3 linked regions of the Homo sapiens genome follow. The protein of the gene in region 1 purifies or fractionates together with the protein of each later gene. This does not show direct contact. Each region holds a gene or a part of one and is shown in the gene's direction. Other genes may lie near its edges.

The links.
Region 2: the proteins of ADI1 (region 1) and C11orf54 fractionate together in Homo sapiens (co-fractionation; one large-scale study listed by BioGRID). This does not show direct contact.
Region 3: the proteins of ADI1 (region 1) and LGALSL purify together in Homo sapiens (affinity purification with mass spectrometry; one large-scale study listed by BioGRID and IntAct). This does not show direct contact.

What each region holds. Positions count from the first base shown.
Region 1 is NC_000002.12:3,512,946-3,516,596, reverse strand, and holds part of ADI1 (acireductone dioxygenase), read left to right. Parts: exon of another isoform or gene 1-1,687; coding exon of another isoform or gene 1,688-1,789; intron 1,790-2,620; coding exon 2,621-2,740; intron 2,741-3,651. UniProt on the Homo sapiens protein: Catalyzes 2 different reactions between oxygen and the acireductone 1,2-dihydroxy-3-keto-5-methylthiopentene (DHK-MTPene) depending upon the metal bound in the active site.
Region 2 is NC_000011.10:93,761,897-93,765,336, forward strand, and holds the end of C11orf54 (ester hydrolase C11orf54), read left to right. Parts: 3' UTR 1-2,853; downstream 2,854-3,440. UniProt on the Homo sapiens protein: Exhibits ester hydrolase activity on the substrate p-nitrophenyl acetate, in vitro. Regulates DNA damage and repair by regulating HIF1A degradation via chaperone-mediated autophagy (CMA).
Region 3 is NC_000002.12:64,452,899-64,457,109, forward strand, and holds the start of LGALSL (galectin-related protein), read left to right. Parts: upstream 1-1,263; 5' UTR 1,264-1,647; coding exon 1,648-1,683; exon of another isoform or gene 1,684-1,980; intron 1,981-2,445; coding exon 2,446-2,517; intron 2,518-2,690; coding exon 2,691-2,779; intron 2,780-3,389; coding exon 3,390-3,567; intron 3,568-4,211. UniProt on the Homo sapiens protein: Does not bind lactose, and may not bind carbohydrates.

The sequences.
Region 1 (3,651 bases):
AGTGTCTGATGAGGATCCTGTCCTCATAGACGGCCATTTCCTTGCTCTGTCCTCATGTGGTGGAAGGGGCAAACTGCTCTCTTACATCTCTCTTGCTCTTTTTTTTTTTTTTTTTTTTTTTTGAGATGGAGCCTCGCTCTGTCACCCAGGCTGGTAGCGCAGTCTTGGCTCACTGCAACCTCTGCCTCCTGGATTCAAGTGATTCTCCTGCCTCAGCCTCCCGAGTAGCTGGGATCACAGGCGTGGACCACCATGCCTGGCTAATTTTTGTATTTTTAGTAGAGATGGGGTTTCACCATGTTGGACAGGCTGGTCTTGAACCCCTGACCTCAGGTGATCTGCCCACCTTGGCCTCCCAAAGTTCTGGGATTATAGGTGTGAGCCACAGTGCCCAGCTCCATCTCTCTTACAAGGCCACTAATCCTATAAATGAGGGCTTGCCCTCATGACTTAATCACATCCTAAAGGTCCCACCCCTTAATACTATCACATTTGTGTTAAGTTTCAACATTCGTATATTTAAACTTATGACACGTGTCATATAATGTGTCATATTACATATTATGTGTCATAATATGGACACATTCAGACCATAGCAAATAGTACTGTGCATATCATGCAGTGGATAGGCTAAGTTTTAGAGTCAACTTTGTAGAAAATAACGTATTGATGACTAGTACTTTAATATGTTCTGGAGTATCGGGGGAACCCACCCCCAATATTTCAACATAGGTTCCATTTTCCATAAGTGTCGGCCAGCTGAGAAATAAAGAGAGACAGTATAAAGAGAGGAATTTTACAGCTGGGCCGCCAGGGGTGACATCACATATCGGTAGGACCGTGATGCCCGCCTGAGTCTCAGACCAGCAAGTTTTTATTAAGGGTTTCAAAAGGGGAGGGGGTGTAAGAACAGGGAGTAGGTACAAATATCACAGGCTTCAAAGGGCAAAAAGCAGAACTACTAATAAGGGTCTAACAAAGATCACATGCTTCTGAGGGAACAGGACAAAGGGCAAAAGCAGAACCACTGATAAGGGTCCAACAAAGATCACAGGGCAAAGGGCAAAAGCAGAACCACTGATAAAGATCTATGTTCAGTGCTGCACATATTGTCTTGATAAACATCTTAAATAACAGAAAACAGGGTTCGAGAGCAGAGAACTGGTCTGACCACAAATTTACCAGGGTGGAGTTTTTCCCCACCTTAGTAAGCCTGAGGGTACTGCAGAAGACCAGGGCGTATCTCAGTCCTTATCTCAACCGCATAAGACAGACATTCCCAGAGCAGCTGTTTATAGACCTCCCCCCAGAAATGCATTCCTTCCCCAGAGTATTAATATTAATATTCCTTCCTAGGAAAAGAATTTAGTGATACCTTCTCTACTTGCACGCCCATTTATAGGCTCTCTGCAAGAAGAAAAATATGGGTGTTTTTGCCTGACCCTGCAGGCAGTCAAACCTTATGGTTGTCTTCCCTTGTTCCCTAAAAATCGCTGTTATTTTATTTTTTAAGGTGTACTGATTTCATATTGTTCAAACACACATGTTTTACAATCAATTTGTACAGTTAACACAATTATCACAGTGGTCCTGAGGTGACATACATCCTCAGCTTACGAAGATAACAGGATTAAGAGATTAAAGACAGGCATAATAAATTATAAAAGTATTATTTGAGAACTGATAGATGTCCGTGAAATCTTCAAAACTTATGTTCCTCTGCCATGGCTCCAGCCGGTCCCTCCATTCGGGGTCCCTGACTTCCTGCAACACTGGAGTTTGTTGTTCAGTAAGTAGTGATGATATAATGTGCAGTTTATTGCAAAACATAAAGTGTGCTAGATTCACTGCCAGTAGTTTTAAATAAGAGTTCAGATGAATTCTGCCTGGAGCTTCATCAGGGAAGTGCTTCGTCAGGAAGGAACAGTAAAACTGAACCTTAATAGAGATAGGATTGTGATAAATGAAAATGTTGAATGGGAATTTTAGGCATAGAAAGCTGTCATGAGCAAGGTTGTGGGGATGTGAAATATCAAATATTTTTAAGATAGCCGATCATCCTATTTGGTTTAGAATGTAGAGTTCTTTAAAAAGTAGGAGATGGGAACAGATAGAAGTAGAAAAGTCAGCTGGGGCCAGATGATAGAAGGTTTCTCATTCCAGTTTAATTAACTTGAGTTTTATTTGCAAGCTGTGAGAGCATACAATGTTTTGGCTCATGGAAACAAACTGACCAAAGAGATGGCATTGAGGATCAATGAGACTCATGAGTGGGATGGTGGCAGAGAAACAGGGCACAGTGAGGGACCTGTGGAGTGGACAGAAAGGCCTGAGGTGGTGAGACTACCATCTCAAAATGGGAAAAAGAATCCCCTGGGATGGACTGTTGCAGAGAAGGGAGGCAGAAATCAAACAGAACTCCATTGTATGTATAGCTGGTGTTTTGGAGAATGGAAAATCCATTAAATGGCTAGAGGAGATGAAGAGAGTTAGTTGAGGGTTGAAAAAATAACAAATGATAAATTTGGAGTATAAAATCATATTGGAGATCCAGAAAGAGAATGTTTCTACATCTCCTTGTTAATCTGAGCTCTTGTTTTTGGTGGGTTAACTCTTTTAGCTGGATGCTGACAAATATGAGAATGATCCAGAATTAGAAAAGATCCGAAGAGAGAGGAACTACTCCTGGATGGACATCATAACCATATGCAAAGATAAACTACCAAATTATGAAGAAAAGGTAAGGGAGCCCTGGATTACCTGGAAAAGAAGTATCATTATATTCACTACTAATAGACGCAATATTTTCTTTCTTTTTTCTTTTAATGTCTGTATGAGGCCATTCTTGCTTTGCTATAAATAAATACCTGAAACTGTGTAATTTATAAGAAAAGAGATTTAATTGGCCCACAGTTCTGCAGGCTCTACAGGAAGCATGTGCTTCCTGTCACCACCATCTGCTTCTGGGGAGGCCTCAGGAAGCTTACATGGCAGAAGGCAAAGAGGGAGCAGGCTTCTCACATAACAGGAGTGGGAATGAAAGAGAGAGCAAGGTGCCACACTGTTTTAAATGACCAGATCTCACAAGAAGTTACTCACTGTAGTGAGGATAGCACCAAGAAGATAGTGCTAAGCTATTCATGAGAAATCCACCCTCATGATCCAGTCACCTCCCACCAGGTCCCACTTTCAATACTGGGGATTACATTTCAATATGAAATTTGGGTGGAGACACAAATCTAAACTGTATTATTCTGCCCCGGCCCCTCCCAAATCTCATGCCCTTCTTGAATTTCAAAATACAATAATCTCTTCCCAATAGTCCCCCAAAGTCTTAACTTCCTCTAGCATTAACTTAAAAGTCCCAAGTTCAAGTCCAAAGTCTCATCTGATACTCATCTCCTTTTACCTATGAGCCTGCAAAATCAAAACAAGTTAGTTACTCCCAAGATACAAAGCGGGTAAAGGCATTAGGTAAATATTCTCATTCCAAAAGGGGGAAATTGGTCAAAAGAAAGGAGCTACAGGACCCATGAAAGTTCAAAACTCAGCAGGGCAGCCACTAAATCTTAAAGCTCCAAAATAATACCCTTTGACTCCATGTCCCACATCTAGGGCACACTGGTGCAAGGAATGGGCTCCCAAGGCCTT
Region 2 (3,440 bases), on another chromosome or scaffold:
CTGTCTATTTTTTTAAAAAAGTAAAAAATAGAAATTATCTCACTACTTAAATCCCATTTTTTTCACTTCATATGAAAGAACATATTGATAGTATATTCTATATTATTTCATAGATCTGTCTGAAAGAGATTGGGAACAAAAATATCTAATTGAGATATTCTTTAATTTTTTACATAGCAGCTTTATTTTTTTTATTCTGTAGTATCAGCGAAATCAGTCATGTTTATACCTTGAATATAAATATCAGGAATCATGCAATTATTTCTACTATGTATTTAGTAGTATCTTATATTTGTATAACATTATTACATTTTGCAAATTAGTATCACAACTGCTAAGTAGATGTTTCTGAGTATTAGAAAAATCAGTGTTATTACCTGCAGGATATTAAAAAACATTTGAAAAAGAGAAAAAGAAAAATCAGTGTTTAGAAATGTTGATAGTTATTGAATCTTTGAATTGAATTTTAAAAATCCATTCTAGTAATCAGAGTATACTTTTTTTATAGAACAAGGTGGCAGGTGGGGAGCCCTTTACCCTTCTGGTGAAGTTAAACCATAGAAGTTTACAATTTGCCTTTCACAAACATTAGCAGTCCGGGCATGGTGGCTGAAGCCTGTGATCCCAGCATGTTGGGAGGCCGAGTGGGAGGATTGCCTGAGCCTAGGAGTTTAAACCAGCCTGGGCACCATGGTGAGACCCCATCTCTATTATTTAAAATGTTTCTTAAATAAAAAAAACACAAACATTAGCAACTAGTTGGCTAGCCATAATTCCTCCCTTGTTTCGATTGCCAGTTAGAAGCAATTTTTATTTCACTGGTTATTTGCAAGAGAAGGGGTAAAAAAACAGCATCAGAGTGCAACACTGAAGTGAGCTTACTTTAATTTGTAAGTGAAGCTGTTGCTGAACATGACCACTATCGTTGCTGAAATATAAAATTATACTCACTGATTGTAATGGTTGAAATTTTCCTGAATAATCATTAGCCAAAGATCAACTCTCTAATGGTGCTAATGGCAATCTAGCTAATGTGCAAATTTAGGAAGTCTTCAGTACTAAGTACATAATTTTCAAATAATATTTTTTAATTGTCTACTTTGGATGTTAGCTATGTCTTGTGAGTATAAATTCCAATTTTAAGCACTATTTTGATGCAAAAAAATGAATAAAAAATTTAATTTATGATATGTTTGTAATATCTTACCTCCAGACAAAATAATATTAATAGTCTATCATTTAACAAATATGTATTGAACACCTACCCTTCTCTCTGGAGTGTACACTTCATGTGGGCAAGGGCCTTGTTCACGACTGTAGCACTAGTGCCTTTAACTGCTAGCAAAGTAGCCACTCGGATGATTATACCAAACACTTTACTAAAGCTGGGGATCTGTCTAGTGGGGAAGACAAACAATAAATATATAATATGTCAGGTGGTATTAAATGCTATGAAAAGAAAGGAGTAGATGGACTGTAAAGGAGGATGCTATTTTTTTGTGGCCATCCCGCACTGAGACAGGATGCATTCCACACTCAAAATTTGGTTCACATGTCCAGACTGATAGCCAAGTTCAGTGGCTCACGCCTGTAATCCTAGTACTTAGGGAGACCAAGGCAGGAGGATCACTTGAGGCCAGGAGTTCAAGGCCAGCCTGGGCAACAGAGAGAGACCCCCATCTCTGCAAAAAAAGAAAAAAAATTTTTTAATTATCTGGGCATGGTTGTGCACACCTGTTGTCCCAGCTGCTCAGGAGGCTGAGGCACGAGAATCACTTGAGCCCAGAAGTTGGAGGCTACAGTGAGCTATGATTGTTTCATTGCACTGTAGCCTGGGCAACACAGTGAGACCCTGTCTCAAAAAGAAAAAAAAAATGACTGATGAAGCCACACACACACCAACAGAGTATGAAAGGGTTGTTACTCACATAATGAAGCTTTCTGGGGAAAGCAGGGCAGCTCCTAAGCAGGATTTGACAACAGGGAAGGAGACTGACTTGGAGTTTTTTGGTGGTTAGGGAGTAGGGCCAGAGTGATGTTTCTTGCATGTGGTTTGAATTTCCCACTGGTATCAAAGAAGGAAACACCCAGGCTTGCTTGCTTTATTTTTTTAAAGAGATGGTGTCTCACTATGTTGCCCAGGCTGGGCTCAAGTCATCTTCCTGCCTCGGCCTCCCAAAGTGCTGGGATTACAGGCATGGGCCACCATGTCTGGCGAGCACCCAGGCTTTCTTAGCTTGCCAGAGGTGTAGGGCATAAGGGGACGAGGGGTGGGATAAGGCTTAAAAGCCACCAGCAGTCAAACATAAATTAAGTCAGATTCTTAATTACAGATTTCAGATCTGATTTCAGATCAGAGCTTATTTCAGGTCAGATTCCAGGTGTAGAGATCATCTGAAGCAGTCCTGGGCCTCTTCACACTACAGATACCAACACTGCCTTTACTCTTCCATTAGTGTCCTCCAAAATGGGGTGCATGGACAGCAGGTACACATGACCTTCCAAGGGGTGTGGGAATATTAGAACATCTATTTATATATTTTATTTCGTCCTTTTAAGTTTCTGTGGTTTTGTGTACATTTCTTACGTTAGGGATTTCAGTTCAAAATTGTATTGCTGATAGACACAATTCAAAAAGCTTGGAGACCAGGTACATTCACACCATCTAATAGAGATGGGGGAAAAGATCAAAATGCTTTTCTTTTTAAATTTTTTCTTAGTTTTCTTTCTTTATAGAGACAGAGTTTCGCCGTGTTGGCCAGGCTGTTCTCGAACTCCTGGCCTCAAGTGATCTGCCCGTCTCAGCCTCTCAAATTGCTGGGATTACAGGCATGAGGCACTGCACCTCACCCAAAGTGCTCTTCTTACTCTTACATTCACTCAGTATAACACAGAAAGCTTCTGTGACCAGATGCATGGGGGTTTTTCCCACACACCAAGCAATTCTCCAGCAGACATCAGCTGGGGGTCCTATAATTTAATTCAATTCTAACACTATTTACTTGGAGATAGCGTCAGATCCCACAGTTTAATGGTTCAATCCTCCAAGACTGCCTCCCACTTCCGATGCCAATCACAAGCTTCAGGTTGTGACCTGTACTTTTGACCAACCCACTGTAAATCGGGGTCTCTATGCCTACCTCTTCAGGTTTGATTAATTTGCTTAGAGCAGATCACTGAACCCAGGGAAACACTTTACTTATATTTTCCAGTTTATTAATAAAGGATATAATAAAGTATACAGATGAACAGCCAGATGGAAGAGATGCATATGGAAAGGCCAGCAGAAGTCCAGAGCTTCCACACCGTTTCTGGGTGCCCCACCTTCTAGGCATGTCCACCTGTTCAGCAATTTGGAAGCTATCCAAACCCTTTTCTTTTGGACTTTGGCTTTGTTTTTGTTTTTGAGACAGGTTCTCACTCTGTCACCCAGGCTGGAG
Region 3 (4,211 bases), about 61 Mb from region 1:
CTGCAGCCACAAGCGTACTGCGCTTTAGCCTCTATCTAGTTCAAGAACCACTTCCAGAGGATATGAGTGAGGCTTACAGGCGTGTGCAGGTAATTCTCCCTGCTCAACTGAGATTACCATCATTAGCTCTGGTCCATAAAGGGAAAACTAAGACACAAAAGCCACATTGATGTTCTAGGCCACACAGCCAATTGCAGTGACTAGAAGAAAGAAGCCTCCCCGGGCGGCGAAGGTTGCAGTGAGCTGAGATCGCGCCACTGCACTCCAGCCTGGGCCACAGAGGGAGACTCCGTCTCAATTTAAAAAAAAAAAAAAAAAAAAAAAAAGGAGCCTCTGAGGGGCCCTCTGGGACTGCAGTAGGTCACACATGCTCCCTGCTTATTAGCATAGAACGCCCCGGTGATTCATGCAATGGAATGTTTCAGCCAAGGATGTCACCTAATAGAGGATATGTTGATACAGCTTTATCTGAGAAGTTACATAATCGTCCTAGTGTGGAAATGCCATAAAGGAATTTCTGGCTTGAATAAAAGAGGTGTGTATCCCCTGGGAAGTACTCCACAAAGGGTATGAGGAGATTTTCAGTGAGAAGCTGACTACCCCAGACTGGGCAAGTGACTTGTTAAAAACAGGGCTCAATGGAGGCTCTCTGAGGACAGTGACTGCGCCCACTTTGATTTGGTAAGGCTTTGACTCCTGCTCGAGAGAGTCCAGGGACCCCTAGACCTGCCTGTCCTTCCACAGGGAAGAGCGACCTTTCTGTATCTAGCCTCCTGGGATAGAAAGGTCCCTACCTTGAGTCCTCTCTGCTTCGTTCTTTCAGGTCACACATTTATTTCTGCAAGCCTTCAGACCTTCCATTCTCTTTCTGCCCTAGAGAGCAGAATGAATCCTTCCCCCGATTTTGTTGGAATTCTCTGAAAGAAATCCTGCCAAGTCTCCCACTCTGGAATACCACCCCCAGCACCCAATCTTCCCTCGACCTCGCCTCCCATCGCCCCACCAGCGCCCAGGACGTGGCAGGAGGAAGGAGGCTGGAGGGAGGGGCGCGGGTGGCACGAGCACCTGTCACCTGACCGGCTCGGGCCCTCACTTCTCCAGCCCCGGCCCTGCCCACCCTCTGGCCGGTGAGAGCCGACAGGGCCCCCGCCCTCCCGGACCCGGACAGGCCCGTCCCTCCCGCCCCGGCCTCCGCCACCGTCCAATGGCCGAGGGGCAGGGCCCGCTGAGCAAGCCGCGGCAGCCCCGCCGGGTCCCCGCCCTGTTCCCGGTTCCCGAGCCGGGCCCCGGAGGCCTTTAAATGCTGCCCAGGGCCGACGCGGCACGGCCCTCGCCACTTTTCTTGGTCGGGCAGCGGCAGCGGCAGCGGCAGCAAGCAGCCCCGTCGGCCCGGGTCCGGGGCCGTTCTGGGCCGCGGCAAGCACCTTCGCCCTCCCAGCTCGCGCTGCCTCCCTCCCCTCCCCTCCTCCCAGGCTCTGCCTGCCAGGTCGGCGCCGGGCCCCGGGCGCGCGCGCGCGCGCCCCCTCGTGTGTGCGCGCGCCCGCCGCCAGCTCGGACCCGCGCCCCCGCCCCCGCCCCGCGCAGGACAGCCCCGGGATCCCCGCCCGCGCGCCGCGTCCCACGTACCCCGCCGCGCCGGGCAAGAAGATGGCGGGATCAGTGGCCGACAGCGATGCCGTGGTGGTGAGTGTGGCAGGGCGCGCGCGAGGCGCCCCTCCCCGCCGTCCCGCACTCCGCCGCCGCCTGCTCCAGCAGTGCTGGGGTGCTGAGCAGCCGCAGGCCCGGCCGGCGCCCGGCGCGTGGGAAGGCGCCCGGTACCTGTTAGCAGCCGCTGGCTGCGCGCGGCCGGTGTTAGGGGCTGGAGAGGCTCCCGGGCTGCGGGGCTCTGGGCTGGGGAGGGAGTTTGGGGAGGATGGCGGGTAGGGACGCCCGACAGCCCCCTCTGTGCCGTGCAACCGCCAGCCAGGTGTGCGCGTGGGTGAGTGTGTCCGGGGCGCGCGCCCCGCCACCGCCCCCGACGTACCGGGGATTCCCCCTTGGAAATGGGTCGGCGCCCGGGGCTCCCGAGAGAAGTTGAGCACGGCCGCTGCACTTCAGTCACGTCCCGAAGGACAGGCCTGGCCCACCGCGCTTCCAGAAGCGTTTACGGTTGGAGAGGGGCCTGCCCTCCTCCGGCGTGGGGCTCTGGCTCTTCGGTGGACCTCGACCTTGATTTTGATCTGGATCTGAAGGGTCTGCGGATCTTCAGAGGCTTAACTACCGGGTGGAAAGGATGGGTTTTGTTCGGGGGTGATGAGATTATCTAAGAGACGGTGAAGAGGCATCATCTGCAGACACTGTGTGCATGTGGAAGGCTGCTGGATTCCACCACATCTGTGTGGGTTCTTCCTCCAGCCCCCCAAAAAAGAGCCCATGGAAAGCCAATCTGTGTACTTCTATTTTTAGAAACTAGATGATGGCCATTTAAACAACTCTTTGAGCTCTCCAGTTCAAGCGGACGTGTACTTCCCACGACTGGTAAATGATTTTGCTCTGTGTCTCTGCCTGTACCTTCCTCCTTTCTCATTGCTTTTTAAAATTTTATTCATTTGTTTATTGCATTTTCCAGTGGGTCAGGCCTTCAGGGTCTGAGGTCTTGGCTTTTCCCTAACAGGCTGTAAAATTCATTTTTCTTCTCCCACCCTTTTCAGATAGTTCCATTTTGTGGGCACATTAAAGGTGGCATGAGACCAGGCAAGAAGGTGTTAGTGATGGGCATCGTAGACCTCAACCCAGAGAGGTAAGGCAGAGTCTTTGTCAGGACAGAACTATCAGGCTGTGGCTGAGCCCTGCCCACTTCTGTTGTGGTTTAGCACTCCTCTTCCTCTCCTTGTGGACAGTGTTGCTAGTTGCCAGTGCCAAGAAAGTACCATGTTCCCATGAAACGAATATGTATGAATCCCAGCCATCATTTCTCCAGACAGCTATTTATATCAGAGATTATAAATATAGGCCCACATTTTCTCTTTGACCCTTAGGGAGGCCAGAGGATTTTTTTTTTTTTTTTTAATGGTTTTGAAACATGGTGCCAGGAGCAAGAACTATCAAGATGAATAAGAACCCAACTTAACATTATTTCCCCTGGTCAATTTCTGTGGCTGTTTTTGAGAATTCCGAAGTGGAATTCTCTAATTTTAGTCATTTTCAACACCAAAGTTTTCACCAGAGCTTGCTTTAGGTAACAAAATAAGCTGGTTTGACTTACTTCTCCATAATCTAACCTCTCTTGAAGAGTAGTGGCCTCTTAAAAATGGACAAACCCAGAGGAGGAAGAAGAAATATAAGCACTTGGGTCATTTTGAAATGTTTTTATATCCAACCCTTAATCAGTGGGATGATTTTCTTTTCAGCTTTGCAATCAGCTTGACCTGTGGGGACTCAGAAGACCCTCCTGCCGATGTGGCAATCGAACTCAAAGCTGTGTTCACAGATCGGCAGCTACTCAGAAATTCTTGTATATCTGGGGAGAGGGGTGAAGAACAGTCAGCAATCCCTTACTTTCCATTCATTCCAGACCAGCCATTCAGGGTGAGTACCTCGAGTGCCTCGGCTCCAGCCACTGGCAGGCTGATAATGTTCGACTTACCTAGTGTGTGCCAAGAACACTTGAAGCAGCCAGAATTTCTGCATGTCCAGGAAATTTGTCACCCAATGGTGAAAAAAAAAGATCAAAAGAGCTCTGTTTGCTGATATAAATTAACACTTGCCATAGTATCTTCTTAGTTCTATTCAGGTCATACATTTAAATAGACCCATATTTACATGTCCAAATTGTTAAGAATAAGTAACTTTTCTATGTAGTACCCAACATATAGTAGATACCTACCCCCAAATATCTGATTGATTAATCAATACTAAGTACCCACTTATTAAATATTAATATTAATAAGGTTGAGAGCTAATAAGTAGCTCTTTTATTTGTATGACATTTTAAAGAATATGATGATGATCATTTCATTTTCTCTTGTTCCCTTTGCTAATGAGGCCATGTTCGTGTCCTTGTTTCCCCCTCTGGATTAATTAGCCTCAGTCTATTTCATGGTTACAGGCTGTGTGGCTGACAAATTCCTTCCCTTGGGGCTGGATGAATAAAGATTTGCTCCCCACTATCTTCTGGGCAGGAAGCACAATCCAAACTTTTCATCCAATCAAGCAGCATTAGCAGCCCCTTC